Linked DNA regions of Homo sapiens. The protein of the gene in region 1 purifies or fractionates together with the protein of each later gene. This does not show direct contact. Each region holds a gene or a part of one and is shown on either strand. Other genes may lie near its edges.

Region 1 (5,146 bases):
CTCGCACCACTGCGTTCCAGCCTGGGTGACAGAGCAAGAGTCCGTCTCAAAAAAAAAAAAATTAACTGGTCCTGGTGGCATGCACCTGTAGTCCCAGCTACTTGGGAGGCTGAGATGGGAAGATCACTTGAGCCCAGGAGGTGGAGGCTGCAGTGAGCCAAGATTGCACCACAGCACTCCTGCCTGGGCAACAGAGGAGGACTCTGTCTCAAAAAAACCCAAAACGATTAAGACGGTAAATTTCATGTGTATTTTTCCACTATTAAAATAAAAAAACAGGCCAGGCGCAGTGGCTCATACCTGTAATCCCAGCACTTTAGGAGGTCAAGGTGGGCAAATCACCTGAGGTCCCGAGCTCAAGACCAGCCTGGCCAACATGGTAAAACCCCGTCTCTACCAAAAATACAGAAATTAGCTGAGCGTGGTGGCGCACGCTTGTAATTCCAGCTACTTGGGAGGCTGAGGCATGAGAATCACTTGAACCTGGGAGGTGAGGCTGCAGAGCCAGCCACCGCACTCCAGCCTGGGTGAAAGAGCCAGACTCCATCTCAAAACAATAAAAAATAAAAAAAGTAAAAAAGTAAAAAAAAAATCTCTCAACATAAATTATCTCTGCAAGACAAAGGGCAAGAAGAAAATAGATACATAAACTAAATAAAGTACATACTAAACAGACCTTCAGATAATTTCTTACTTCTGTATTCAGACATTCTGCAGAGAAAAGAGTTGGTGGTTAAAAAAAAAAAAACTTATGGAAAACTAAGTGGTCAATTTCTGAAATCACTGGTTCATAAATAAGTGGGGATCCTGACAACAGCATCTCTTTATCAGGTTAACAGTAGTTTGTTAAATTCGAAACAAATCTATTCTACAAGGATTTACAACTATAGACAACTGCTTGAAGTAAGGGTCTCTTCTCAGATATTAAAATTTTCAGAACAGATAAAAGCACAGAAGACCTAATGTGTTGAAATGAATGACTAAATTTTGCCCCCACCACATCCATACCAAAAGCTACTGAAACAATATACTATGCCGTAAGGCTAAATTTTACCTGCTACCAATGTCTTCAATAGAAGAGATTCCATGGAACTGACAGGAGAAAGCAGTGCTGATTCCAGCATGTTCAATGCTGTAGCACTGAAAGACTTCAGCAGCTCTGGGTTATCCTCAGTCACTGTCTGCAAACAATATGCTACGAGGCAAAAAATAAGTATTTAGAAACAAATGAATTCTGCTTTGGATAATTTACACCAGTATAACTCATCAATAAAACATTGTATCATTACCACTTCATTAGACACATGTAGGTTTTGCAAAATATATATGCTTTATCTCAGGGTGATATGCGCAAATGAGGCTTCCCAAACTATCAGTGCTGGAAAAGATCATGTTTCTTTTCTTTTTAAATTTCTAATCCTGTACAGATCTATACTTTTTTTTTTTTTTTTTGAGACAGTCTTGCTCTGTCACCCAGGCTGGAATGCAGTGGCGCATCTCAGCTCACTACAACCTCTGCCTCCCAGGTTCAAACGATTCCTGTGCCTCAGTCTCTCAGGTAACTGGAATTAAAGGTATGCGCCATGATGCCTGGCTAATTTCTATATTTTTAGTAGAGACAGGGTTTCACCATGAAAGCCAGGCTGGTCTGGAACTCCTGGTCTCAAGTGATCTGTCCGTTTCGGCCCTTCAAAGTGCTGGGATTACAGGCATGAGCCACCATGCCCAGCCAGATCTACACTTTTTACAAAATACAATTAAAAAGACTCTTTTATTTTTTTTTTGAGATGGAGTCTCGCTCTGTCGCCCAGGCTAGAGTGCAGTGGCACAATCTTGGCTCACTGCAAGCTCCGCCTCCTGGGTTCACACCATTCTCCTGCCTCAGGCTCCCGAGTAGCTGGGACTACAGGCACCCGCCACCATGCTTGGCTAATTTGTTGTATTTTTAGTAGAGATGGGGCTTCACCTTGTCAGCCAGGATGGTCTCGATCTCCTGACCTTGTGATCCGCCCGCCTCAGCCTCCCAAAGTGCTGGGATTACAGGTGTGAGCTACCACGCCCAGCCTAAAAAGACTCTTAAATGCGGCAATGTCGTTACTATAAATGTTTATAAAAGTTTATCCTCAGGCCGGGTGCGGTGGCTCATGCCCGTAATCCCAGCACTTTGGGAGGCTGAGGCAGGAGGATCACTTGAGGTCAGGAGTTGCAGACCAGCCTGGCCAGCATGGCAAAACCCCATCTCTACTGAAAACACAAAAATTAGCTAGGCATGGTGATGCACGCCTGTAATCCCAGCTACTTGGGAGGCTGAGGCAAGAGGATAGCTTGAACCCGGGAGGCGGAGGTTGTAGTAAGTCGAGATTGCGCCACTGCACTCCAGCCTGGGTGACAGAGCTGAGACTCCATCTCAAAAAAAAAAAAAAAATTTTACCCTCAATTTATGTACTTATCAAGGACCAGTAGCAAACAGCCTTAGGTTTTGGGACGTCTGGCTTCCTTTAAATTTATCATGACCTTCAAAGTTAGGGTTATTTCTGGCAGAGCAATAGCTCTTTAAGAAAAAAAGTAGTTTATATAAAAGTATGAGCAAATTAAGAGATGTGTAAAATATTAAATCATGCCCATCAAAATTACTCAAAATGCATGCTACTGCTGTGGTTGATGATACATTTATATGGAAATCCACATATATGCATTTCTGTACATATATCCAAATGTAATATCTTTGTCATTAAGAAACTAATTAAATTTACTTTAGCCAACAGCCATGACTGCTACCATACAGGTTCAAAAAAAGTTATATGAATACATGGGATGGAATCTTATAAGTTCATTTTACTATATGTAAGCATTGCTTGACTTTAGAAGCAAAAGTAATAATGTATTTTAAAAAATCATTAATCTAGCTACATGGAGAAGGAAAACACTATTATACAATGCAAAATGACTATTCTAATCCATTTCAAAAACGCTCATTAAGGGGAAGAAAAACTAAAAACAGAAATAAATCTATAAGACTAAAGGCACAAAAATAGAAGTGATTTTTCTTGTAAAAGATATGAACTAACTTTCCTGAAGTTCTCTTATTGTAACAAAAACTGTCCTCTGAGATTAAGTCACCTATCAATTTCCTAAAAATGGCTGAATCGTTTTTAAAATCCCCATTTACTCACAACTCTCCAGCCCCACCAAGATTCCATTTAGAGAAATGATTTTTAAAATTTTCTCAGTAGTATTTATTCTACTATTTTCCCTCAATTCTGTTCTCTTAAAAATATCCATTAGAGTCAAGAAAAACAGCAGTCAGGGGAATACACTTCTTCCTCCCCAGGAGAAATGCAGTTCCACAAAGGGACAGCTGGATGCCCGCAGTAATGATCGGTAGAAAAGAAATGCTCTCCCTCAATTGTTTCTCCACTCCCACCCAGAATTCTGCTGAGTTGCCTATGCTCTGACTTCTGCCTCCTGCCACTGAGCTGAGGGTCCCCAGTGGTTCCCCAGCCCAATAAAGAGAAGGCGAGGCAGCCAAAGCCACTGAAGTTGCTGGACTTTGCCTTCCCTGTCTCATGGAAGGCATGAAGGCCTAAGTGGAATTTCAATCATTTCTTTTCCTCTTTTTCTCTCAACAAAACTCAGGCCGTCAGTTTTCTGCTGGACGTATGAGATAGTAGCACAATACATTTAAATAAGTTTAGATTCCAATTAACTGGCTTAAAGGCCTGGTAGTTGTGCGTTACTGTTTCTTAGTAAATGGAGATGAAAACTTCAAGAATTAATAAAGGCTGCTAAGAATGGAAACAGGCTAGAAACCACATATCCTCACATAATTACCTTTCTCCCTTTCAGAGTCAAAAGCAGAAAAACTGAATGAGTAGGTAAAGAATTAATATTAATCACAGATTTAAGACCCAGAAAAAACAGGTGCTGAGCTACACATTCACATACAACGAAACAAAAAATCACTCCAGTGGAATAAACACGCCAAAGCTGCATAAAAATTTTTGAATAAGGCTACACATTCTTAATAAGTCATCACCTTTTCTTCACTTACCTACTGAAATAGCCAGGTCAACATTGGTAGGAAACCTACTTAAATACTTTAACACAATCTCCAAACACCCTTCTTTGTTGAATATAGACACTGCTCTACTACTGCATTCACTAAATTGAAGGGGGAAAAAAAAGTTTTACTATTCACATTTTAACAGTAGGAAATCAACCATAGCAATCCATAAAAAAACAAACGAGGCTTTATAAACCAAGGAGTTGGAATCAAACACCCACCATTTTTATCGATGAAGGAACTAACACCCATTCACATTCACTGTACATGAGAACTGGCTATCTATATTTTATTTCTATCACAATGGGACCTTTTCATCAATCTCTTTGCCATGATGCCAGTTTCCTTATAGAAGGTTAGAGCTGGAAGAGATCTTGTAAATCGTTTAATTCAACTCCCCATTTTATAAATGTGAAGACCCAGGCCCCAAGTGGTAAAGTGGCCCATCAAAGAGCACACATTTTGTTAGTGGTAGAGCCAGGCCCAGTACCTAGGTTCCCTGGGTCCAGGCTACTGTTTTTTCTTTCCTCCATACCACAATGATAACAAGTTAAAGGAGGATAAAAGGCCTCTATATTTATCACACAAAAACACAAATTTATTTTTTATTTTTTAACCTACTATATTTTAGAACATTAACAAAAACACACATTTAAAGGAAAATAAAATTATATTTTATTCAAGCCTTTTAGAGTGCAATTATAATTTCATCAAGCAGAATTTGCAGTCTACAATAGAGAAATTACAATAAGTATTTTTTAAATTATACTACCTTTTAATAAAAGACTCAGCTTTCAGTGTTATGAATAAGCAAACACATTAAATACGAGTTAACAAGGCTAATTGTAATAATTGTATCCATGTTTCCAGAGGAAATATCCATGTTGTACATGTTTCCTCCATACATATAACATACACACATGACACGCTAACAGAGCTGACTAAATTATTAAACTAAATCTGTTATGTAATGAAAAATATTTCATATCTTCTATCTACCTACCTACCTACCTATCTAGTTATGGCAGCATGAAGGAGCCCACAGTCTAGTCAGGAAGACAAGGCATATATGTGTAAAGATAA
Region 2 (4,769 bases), on another chromosome or scaffold:
TAAGGCTAGCTTGAACATGTTTGAGTATCATTTCACTGATAAACTATTTTAATATATCTTTTAATATTTTATTTAAATATCTATATAATATTTAATATATAATTTTAAAATTCTGAATTAATTAAAAGCTTAGCATTTGTAAGAACAGCACAAAGAACTCCTTCCTTTATATCCTTCACTCAGATTTACCAATTGTTAACATTTTGTTCTATTTGCTTTATCACTCTCTTCTCTTTTCCCTAAACTTTTTAAAAGTCACAGGCACACCATTTTACTCCTAAACACTTCAGGATATGACTTCCTAAGAGCAAAGATATTTACTTACATATCACAGAACAATTTTAAAAATCAGGAAATTTAATACTGAAAATACACAATTATCTAATTTGTATATTAGATAACAGACCTCGAATGTTGCCAATTCTCCCAATAACATCCTTTTTAGCAACTTTTTTCTGGTCTAGGATCTAATCTAAGATCATACTACACATTTTGTTTGCATGACTCTTTAATCTATTAATCTGGAACAGATAGTTTCTCAGCCTTTGTCTTTTATGACACTAACACTTTTGTAAAGTAGAAGTCAGCTGTTTCACAGAATGTCTCTCAATTGGGGTATGCCTGATATTTTATCCTGCTCAGTGCATCACACCAGGAGTACAGCGTTTCACTAAGTCCCATTACTAGCAATACTAAACTTGATCACTTGGGTAATGGGATGTTTCTTCACTGTAAAGTTATTTCTTACTTTGTGATTAATAAATAATGTATGAGGAGATACTTTTAGATTATGTAAATACCCTATTCCTCATAAAACATTCACTCACTAGTTTTAGCTAGTGATGACTCTTGCCTGAATCAATTATGGTGATGTGTGCAAAATGATTTGTATAACTCTTTCATTCTCGCAAATTTATTAACTGACATTCTATGGTATGCAGAAGCTTTTCTTTACACCCTATGTATTTACATATTTATTGAGTATGTATTCTTATTTAATTCAATAGGTTTATAATCCATTTTATTTTGATATTCAATAGCACCAGATACAGTAAGTGGGAGCTCCTTCAAGCTGATTCACATGTCCTTCTGACATATCCCCACCATTTGTCTGAGCACTTCCTTGGCTTTCTGATATATGATGTTCCATTTTGTACTCTCCCTGTACCACCCCTTAAATCAGTCATTTCTCTAAGCGCTGAGTCTTTTCAGGAGATGCTTTTTAGAAACAAATATCTGGGTCTCAAGATGTGTTCATTGCTAATGACATACCAATTCTTCTGGGCCTTTTCAGCAGAAACAACTAGAAGATATATTTTTATCAGTTCTATTTTTAAAAATTATATCCAACTTAAGAAAAACAATACATTTTCCACTACGGCATTTGGGCAACACATATTTTACAGAAATAGCCACACAAAAATCTATGTAGTGAAATGCTTGTAATTATTGGTTAATTTTTCGTTTTAAACATTGTACAAATTTTTGTTCTACTACACAGTAGGCTAGTGATATAAATTTTTCAATTTTATAAAAACAAAGCACAAATAAAACTGTAATTTAACCATTTAAGATATACAAGTCAAAGCTAGAAGAGCCTCTTTTCTGACATAAAATAAACAGGATTTAACAAAGACCAAGAATAATTAATATTTGAAAAATAATACAGGGGGCTTTAAGCCTTTTTTTCTCCTAAGACTATAAAATATACTAAAATTAAATTAGCAAGTTAATCAGAGGAGAGAAATTAATATGGGAGGAGAGATATTAAATGAATTAATTTTAAAATACTAATTCCTTTGACTTCCTTCACTCCCATATCTACTGGAATTTTCCAAGGATGTACAAATCCTTGAAAACAACTACTCTATCATTTCCACTTAACAAAAAGAAGTAGTTGGGTCATAATTTTGTGTGGAAAAAGAGAAAGTGGGCTATTCATATGGACCTATACAAATCCTTGGATGCTTGGACATTACTGCACATCTGATCTAGACAGGCTGATAATAAGCAAGTCAAATGGACAGAATATACTCTAAAAGTTTTGGTTTTTTTTTGGGGGGGGGGTGGTTCCTCAATCTGTTCCTCAGGTTATTAAATTTTATCACAGACTTAAGTAATCATTTACCTAACCAGCATTTATTAAATATCTACTTTATTTCCAGAGCTGAGCTAGGTGTTCCCTCCCCTCCTCTTTGGCCTTATTAGCAAGTCCTTCAGTGCTTCTTTTTACTCACTCTACCACCTCTTCTGCTTCACTCCACCTGTTCCCTGCCCTCTGTAAGCCTCACAGTATAGTATAACATTTCAGCCACCCTCTTGGAAGAATCCTCAGGATATTTCTGCATGATAAGATTAAATGTTAAACTTTTTCTAAGAACACCTGCTCTTCAGGTATACCACTTTGTAAATTGCCAATATGAAAGGCTAGCTAAGAATTTCCCAGCAACATTAGATGTCTGAAGCTCTCACACCACTAATTACACTCTCCTATCTTTAATCTCTCTTTCAGTCTATAAAAGTGCTCACATATCTTGCATATTAAAAAAAAGAAGCTTCTAGAAGAAAAGCTTTTCTTCCCATTTATTCAACTCACTGTAACACTGTAATCTGGTTGTTTTTATTTTATTTTTATTTTTATTTTTTTCGAGGTGGAGTCTTGCTCTGTCGCCCAGGCTGGAGTGCAGTGGTGCGATCTCGGCTCAGTGCAACCTCCGCCTCCTGGGTTCAAGCGATTCTTCTGCCTCAGACTCCCAAGTAGCTGGGACTACAGGCACACGCCACCACACCCAGATAATTTTTGTATTTTTAGCAGAGACGGGGTTTCACCATATTGGCCAGGCTGGTCTCGAACTCCTGACCTCGTGATCGCCTGCCTCGGCCTCCCAAAGTGCTGGGATTACAGGCATGAGCCACTGAGCCTGGTCTGCAATCTAGTTGTTATCCTGGAACTTCTCCCTCTTCCTCACTCAAACAAGTTATTTATTCATGGTTACTCTTTCCTGTGTTCCTCTATTATTCCTCACTCCAACTGCTTGTATGTCCTAACTCATCTCCTTGCCTCTAATCTCTTCTTCAAATGCTCCCTTTTCCCACCTATCTCTTTACACGCTGCTGCCAAAATACTCTTTATAAAACCCAAATATCATATTTCTCCCACGCTTAAAACAAATCTATGACTTCTTAGTGCCTAAAAATTAAAACCCAAGTCTTCATCATAGAATAGAAAGTCGCATATTATCTCACCCGTCCACCTGTTGTTATGGAACTCTTCATACCCCTTGAGCCACCCACACTGTTTTGTACCATAAGCTCCAATTTTTATGAATGATATATAAATCTCAAAACCCTGATGTTGACCACAAATGTCCTGTGCTCATCCTGCTCCATCCTCTGGAATCCTCAGGGTCCACTCCTGACTCTTATCTGTCAAGGTATAGCTCAATATCACTTCCTCTTTTAAGCGTTCCTGACTCATATGAGTAGAGCCCATCAGTCCTTTCACAAGACCACACTGTGTGTGTTTACCTCTATTACAGCATGTCACACTTTAATGTAATTAATTGTTAACATCTGTTTTCCACTCTAAACCGTGAGTTCCTTGAAGTCAATAGTTGCTTTTATCCATCACTATATTCCCTATGCCTATCATTCCTAATAGGTGTTCAATAAATATTGTTGAATAAGTGAAATTAAAAAGTAGAATGCAAAATTTTTTTTGAATGATAAAAATAAAAATAAAAAGCAGAATGGAAAGTGAGATTATAATCTCATACAGATAACATAAACCTGACTATTAAACATCCTTACCTGGTAACTAACTATTTTCTTTCCATCGCCTCTAGTCTGAGGTAAGGTCAAAGGCCCAGATACCACCCAAACATCTTCAAACCTTTCTGTCAGCTCTCGACAGTACATTTCTATTCTGAAAAACAAATAAAAAAATGTATGATATTCTCACATATATACATGTAAGACAGCAGCAAATCATATCAATTCCTATGAAAGATACCAAGAAAAACTGCATTTGAGAAATTAAACAAGAACATGGCACAAAACATTATAAGCATATAAACAATTATTTTCCCAGTTTGCTTACTGCACAGAAAAAACTTAAAAATCACATACACTAACAAAACTATCTACATTTTTCTTTATGTGCGCTCAGAGTACATTCTGGAATTCAAATTTCATGAACTTAAAACTTTTTTTATGCCATAGTTCCCAACCAGCTTTCAAGAATTATGTATCATTCCAACAAGATGATATACTTTATTTAACCATTCCTCTTGCAGGACAATTGGGCTTATGTTAACATTTCTTATATAATGCAACGTTGTATCAATTCCTTAGGATAAATTTCAAGGACCAGAATTACTGAATGAATTTATTTTAAAGACTCGTCATCATATGTAAAACTAACATTTTTAATAGGGTTATATCAATTTACTCTATAAGCTTTTAATAGGGTTATATCAATTTACTCTAAAAAATTAAAATACAACACAGCAGTTTCACAACAATCTTTATAATGCTGGGATTTATCATTTAAAATCTGTTTTTGTCAACTTACCAGATAAAAATGGCAAGTATTTTTTTTTTCTTTTTTTTAGATGGAGTCTCACTCTGTCACCCAGGCTGCAGTGCAATGGTGCAATCTCAGCTCACTGCAACCTCTGCCTCCCGGGTTCAAGTGATTCTCCTGCCTCAACCTCCCGAGTAGCTGGGATTACAGGTGCCCAAATGGCAAGTAGTTGTAATATGTACTT

What was found. The genes of interacting proteins can lie anywhere in the genome.
Region 2: the proteins of HEATR3 (region 1) and EXOG purify together in Homo sapiens (co-immunoprecipitation; 2 studies listed by BioGRID and IntAct, with this or other methods). This does not show direct contact.

What each region holds. Positions count from the first base shown.
Region 1 is NC_000016.10:50,071,620-50,076,765, reverse strand, and holds part of HEATR3 (HEAT repeat-containing protein 3), read right to left. Parts: intron 4,162-5,146; coding exon 4,052-4,161; intron 1,196-4,051; coding exon 1,055-1,195; intron 1-1,054. UniProt on the Homo sapiens protein: Plays a role in ribosome biogenesis and in nuclear import of the 60S ribosomal protein L5/large ribosomal subunit protein uL18 (RPL5). Required for proper erythrocyte maturation.
Region 2 is NC_000003.12:38,506,010-38,510,778, reverse strand, and holds part of EXOG (nuclease EXOG, mitochondrial isoform 1 precursor), read right to left. Parts: intron 3,926-4,769; coding exon 3,811-3,925; intron 1-3,810. UniProt on the Homo sapiens protein: Endo/exonuclease with nicking activity towards supercoiled DNA, a preference for single-stranded DNA and 5'-3' exonuclease activity.